2 separate regions of the Homo sapiens genome follow, and region 2 is linked to region 1. Evidence: fine-mapped expression QTL. Tissue or cell type: tibial artery. Region 1 holds a variant in brackets; the other region holds the start of a gene. All regions are shown on one strand. Distances are between the middles of the regions.

Evidence for each region. PIP is the estimated chance that this variant, and not a neighbour inherited with it, causes the effect.
Region 2: ELMO3 starts here. The variant in region 1 is fine-mapped to the expression of ELMO3 in tibial artery (GTEx, PIP above 0.99). The same link has a PIP of 0.9 or more in atrial appendage, fibroblasts and skeletal muscle.

Annotation. Positions count from the first base shown.
Region 1 is chr16:67,135,325-67,138,076 of GRCh38, reverse strand. The region is part of intron 8 of PHAF1 (phagophore assembly factor 1); the gene reads right to left. Among named protein-coding and RNA genes, the nearest start is that of B3GNT9, 14 kb to the left of the region's middle. The variant C/G (reference allele first, on the strand shown) is at 1,254.
Region 2 is chr16:67,198,139-67,200,638 of GRCh38, reverse strand. It overlaps ELMO3 (engulfment and cell motility 3), which reads right to left and starts at 1,508. Exons shown (of 20, transcript NM_024712.5): 1 at 1,235-1,508; 2 at 1,046-1,086; 3 at 883-955; 4 at 638-688; 5 at 278-447; 6 at 89-188. The coding sequence starts at 1,312. It overlaps E2F4 (E2F transcription factor 4), which reads right to left. Exons shown (of 10, transcript NM_001950.4): 10 at 1,721-2,500. RefSeq lists a silencer at 2,113-2,172.

The DNA.
Region 1 (2,752 bases):
CAGCTACTTTTTAGATTGTGATTCCCCAAAGTGTATCTTTCTACAAATTATTGTGGAGACCAGATGGCTGAACTGACTCCCTGCATTAAAAGCATCACTGCAGCCATATTCCATAAGGAAGGATATGAGAAATGAGTGGGTTGAGAAACTTGTGCTTGCCACAGGAAACTCTCAGTGAAGACGATAACCCTTTGAGGCCCTGACTTAACAAATCATTTGCCCTGCTGACAGTGTAAGCAGTGAGCAGTGTGACTGCTGGGAATGTGCTGTACAAGGTGGCAGACATAATTGGCTGAGAGCCCACCCTCGACAGGCTCCTCCTGCTGTCTCCTGGGATGATTAATGACCCTGATCCTTGACCACCCTGCTGTTTCAAGCAGTGATCCTCTTGGGAAAAAACCACACTAAATCACTTGACTTTGCTGCCACATCTCAATTCTCTCAAAAACTATAGCTCAGGCTGGGTGCGGTGGCTCACACCTGTAATCCCAGCACTTTGGGAGGTTGAGGCGGGCGGATCACTTGATGTCAGGAGTTTGAGACCAGCCTGGTCAATATGGTGAAACCCCATCTCTACTAAAAATACAGAAATTAGCCTGGCGTGGTGGCACACGTCTGTAATCCCAGATACTTGGGAGGCTGAGGCATGAGAATCGCTTTAACCCAGGAGGCAGAGGTTGCAGTGAGCTGAGATCACACCACTGCACTCTAGCCTGGACAACACAGCAAGACTCTGTCAAAAAACAACAACAACAAAAAACCCCAAAACCATAGCTTAAGCATGACACTCCTTTAAGTGGTTGTTCTGTCTTGGCTAGAAAATCACATTTTAAGAAATTCGTAACGTGAAGGTTGTGAACTGTCTAACTGTTCACAGAAGTGGGCTCAGAGTTCATATACCAGATTCTTTTTTTTTTTTTTTGAGAAGGAGTCTTGCTCTGTCGCTCAGGCTGGAGCGCGGTGGCGCTATCTCGGCTCACTGCAAGCTCCACCTCCTGGGTTCACGCCATTCTCCTGCCTCAGCCTCCCGAGTAGCTGGAACTACAGGCGCCTGCCACCATGCCTGGCTAATTTTTTCTATTTTTTAGTAGAGATGGGGTTTCACCGTTAGTCAGGATGGTCTCAATCTCCTGACCTCGTGATCCGCCCACCTCGGCCTCCCAAAGTGCTGGGATTATAGGCGTGAGCCACTGTGTCCAGCCTATATACCAGATTCTTAATAATTAAGAACCATTTGGGAGGCTGAGGTGGGA[C/G]GACCGCTTAAGGCTAGGAGTTTGAGACCAGCCTGGGCAACATAGGGAGACCACGTGTCTACAAAAAAATAGAATTAGCTGGGTGTGGTGGTGTGCACCTGTAGTCCCAGTTTCTTCGGAGGCTGAGGCAGAAGGATTCCTTGTGCCCAGGAGTTCAAGGCTGCACTTAGCTATGATGATGCCACTGCATTCCAGCCTGGGTGACAGAGGGAGACCATGTCTCAAAGAAAGAAAAAAGAAGCAAAAAAAAAAAAAAAAAAAAAAAAAAAGGAATCAATGCCTCAGAGACTGATGCAGGAACCCAATTTACGAATAAATGCTGGTTAGGCAATGAGCTCCACGAAGGTTCTCAGCTCTCTTTATGGGAACAAACTCCACGCTGAAGCTCCCAGTCCCGTTAAGCACGATCCACAACCCAAAGCAGCTGAAGTTGGCCAGGCATGGGAATGTCACAAAATGAGGCATGGATCCTGGAGGGACCAGCTACTGAAGGTGGCACTCTTTTTTTTTTTTTTCTGTGAGAAGGAGTTTCGCTCTTGTTGCCCAGGCTCCAGTGCAATGGCGCTATCTCAGCTCACTGCAACCTCCGCCTCCTGAGTTCAAGCGATTCTCCTGTCTCAGCCTCCTGAGTAGCTGGGAGTACAGGCGTGCTTTACCACGCCCAGCTAATTTTTGTATTTTTAGCAGAGATGGGGTTTCATCATATTGGTCAGGCTGGTCTTGAACTCCTGACCTCAGGTAATCCACCCGCTTTGGCCTCCCAAAGTGCTGGGATTACAGGCATGAGCCACTGCACCCGGCCAACTATTTCTTTTTGTTGTTGTTGTTCATGGTTGGCAAAACTCTGGCCAAGGTGTGGCCAAACCACAATTCAACAAGTCCCGTCTGCTTGCCTACGTTGAGAACTTGGCATAAAGGGTAGAAAAAGGAGAGCCAGGCATGGTGGTGCGTGCCTGTAGCCTAGTCAGGAGGTTAAGGCAGGATTGCTTGAGCCCAGGAGTTCAAGGCCACAGTATTCCAATGCACACCGGCCTGGATAATATAGGGAGAAAAGCTGGGTGTAGCGGCTTGCACCTGTAATACCAGCACTTTGGAAAGCCAAGGAGGGAGGATCGATTGAGCCCAGGAGTTCAAGATCATTCTGGGTAACACAGCAAGACCCATCTCCACATAGACAAAAATTAACTGGGCATGGTAGCACATGCCTGTGGTCCTAGCTACTTGGGAGGCTTAGGTGAGATCACTTGAGCCCAGGAGTTTTGAGGCTGCAGTGAGCTATGATTGCACCACTGCACTACAGCCTGGATGACAGAATGAGGCCATCTCTTACAAAACAAAACAAAACAAAACAAAAAAAGGTAGAAAAAAGGGGAGAGCTGGCCAGGTGCGGTGGCTCACGCCTGTAATCCCAGCACTTTGGGAGGCCGAGGTGGGCGGATCATGAGGTCAGGAGTTCCAGACCAGCCTGAACAACATGGTGAAACCCTGTCTCTACTAAA
Region 2 (2,500 bases), 63 kb before region 1:
TCACCACCTCACCCCCATGGAAGACCGGGTCTACCACTGCCCCACTGCTCCACTGCCCCCACCCGCTGCCCTAGGAAAGCCCACCCACCTTCCTCACAAAGGGGATGCTCAGAGTCTCCCAGGACACCACGCCGTGCTCCATGAGCTCTGAGAAGGCCCTCAGGCTGAGGGCCAGCACCTCTCCTAGGCTGGAGGGGGGACATCTGGGGCTGAGCAGGACCACCCCAGGACCAGAAAGACCCACCATCTCCCCCAGCCCACACATCCCTGTGCTCACTCGTCCCCATCTTCAATGATGGTGCCTAGTATCTGGAGCCCATTACGGCTGATGACCTCCCTGGCAAAGATCATGTCCGAGGCCAGCGGAACAAGGCGCCTCAGGGCTTCCCGGCGCCCTTCAGGACTGTTACTCTGCAGCCCACCCAAGAGCTGCTCAGCCTCAAGGTCCTGGCAGGAACGGAGCAGGAGCAGAGGTGAAGAGGCTGGGCATGGTAAGGGTGGGACCTGGAAGTGTGCGGCCCCGGGCGTCAACTAGGTGGCGCAAGGCAGGGCTGGGGCGGGGGCCTCCGGGGCGGGGGGCCTCTGGACCTGGAGCAAAGGGGCAGGGATGGGGAAGGCGGGACGGGAGGGGCATTACTGGGGCCGTGCTGAGGCACAGGATGCTGCCATTCTTGATCTCCGCGCGGTTCTGGAGAAGACAGCAGAAAAGGCAGCGAGGTCAGGGAGGGCTCCGAGGACTGATCAACTGGGGTGTCGGTGAGGGCGGCTGGGGGTGAATAACAGATCGCGCTCCGGTAGTGGGATGAAGAGCCAGAGTTATCGGGGCCAGGTGGGTTAGAGGGGTCGGAAGGCCGAGCTTGGGGCTGGGGAGAGGGGACTCACATTCTCGGTGATGTATCTCCGGTGCCCATCCGCAAACTGCAGGGCGTAACGCTCAGAGTGCGTCAGGCTCCACCTGAGGGGCACGAGGCTCAGCGAGGCCGGCAGGGGGCGCCGCCCCTCCTGCCCTCCCGCCCTCCGCAGGCCCTGGCCCGGCAGCACTCACGCGTCGCACACCTCCTTCAGCACAGCGGCCAGGGGCTTCGCCTGCAAGTGGAGTGGTCATTCTCGCGGCCTGGGCAGGGAGGGATGGGGAGGAGCCTGGGGGGAGGGGTGGGGCGGGCTGCCCCGAGGGCCAGGGGGCTACCGGGAGGTGGGGCAGTGGGGCAGATGGAGGCGGGACCAGCCGGGTGACCTGGTCCAGCTGGATGAGCTGCGGGATGGCGTCACGCATCTTGATGGCAATCTTCACCACGTTCCGCGGAGGCGCCATGGTCCAGCTGGGACGTGGGCGCCTGCACTTTCCGGAGACCGTGCACCTGCGGCCAAGGGTGCACCTGGCCTGGGGCCCCTGGGGACGAGGAGGTCCTCCCTTTCCGAGACCTGACCTCGGTGTCCCGCACTCGCGGCCCAGACTGCTGCTCCTGGCCATGCAACGCGGCCTTCCCAAGGGAGCCGAGGTTAGTTCCGGGTTGGAGTCTGGGGGTAGGAAGGTAGGACGGCTCCGCCTGCCCCGCCCCGCCGAGGCGGCCCCGCCCCACACCAAGGTGCGGCAGGTGGGGGCGGGGAGGGCAGGCTGCCGGAGGCCGCCCCACCCCTAGTTCCAGCAAGGTGACCCACCCAATCACACTGCCAGTCCAGCACAGTCCCAAGGAGGGTCCCCAAAGAACCACATCAGAGCTAGCCTTAGGCATGGTTTTTATTCACTTGAACACTGTACAAATATTACAATTTCCTTTTGCTGCAAAAAGTATAAAAATAATCTTTATATAGGAATCCATTCGTTACTGTAAATCTTTCTAAATCTCTGCAAATGGCTCTAAATGAGGGTAAATGAAAAAGCCGAAATGAAGAGAGGGTTATGGGGCAGCAGGAGGTGGGGCCAATCATCAGGGCTGGACCACCCAGACTCCTCCCCAGAGACCTCTGTTCCTTCTTGGTAGCCGCCCCCACCACCTGCAGGTTCTAGGGCTAAAGGCCCAGCAGAAGTGGGCACGTGAGAGGGCCAGGAGGAGCTGGAGGGTCAGGGGGTGGGGGATAGCGAAGGAAGCTAGAAGTGGTGCTGGCATGTGCCCAGTTCCACCCCACCCTTCCCTCCTAGGGGAAGGAGCTGGCAGAAGCAAGACACTGAGGCTGGCAGGAACAAGACACTGCCCCCTATGGGGGGTAATGGCAGCTCCTCGGTTCTGTGCCACTGGGTGGCAGCCGAGCCTGGGCTGGCGAAGGCCGCAGAAAGGGAGAAGCAAACACTTTGGCTCCACGGTGATGGGGGCTGAGTCCTGTTCCCCTGCTCTGCGAGCACAGAAGTGCCAGCACAGGAGCGGGAGCTGTGGCCAGAACTGTGCGGTGAGGGGAGGCCGGAGAAGCCAGGCGTCTGTGGCTCTCAAGCTCTGTAGGGGTCGGGTGGGAGAGGTCCCCAGGCAACCCCCAGGTCAGACAGTCTGGGTCCCAGCCACACAGG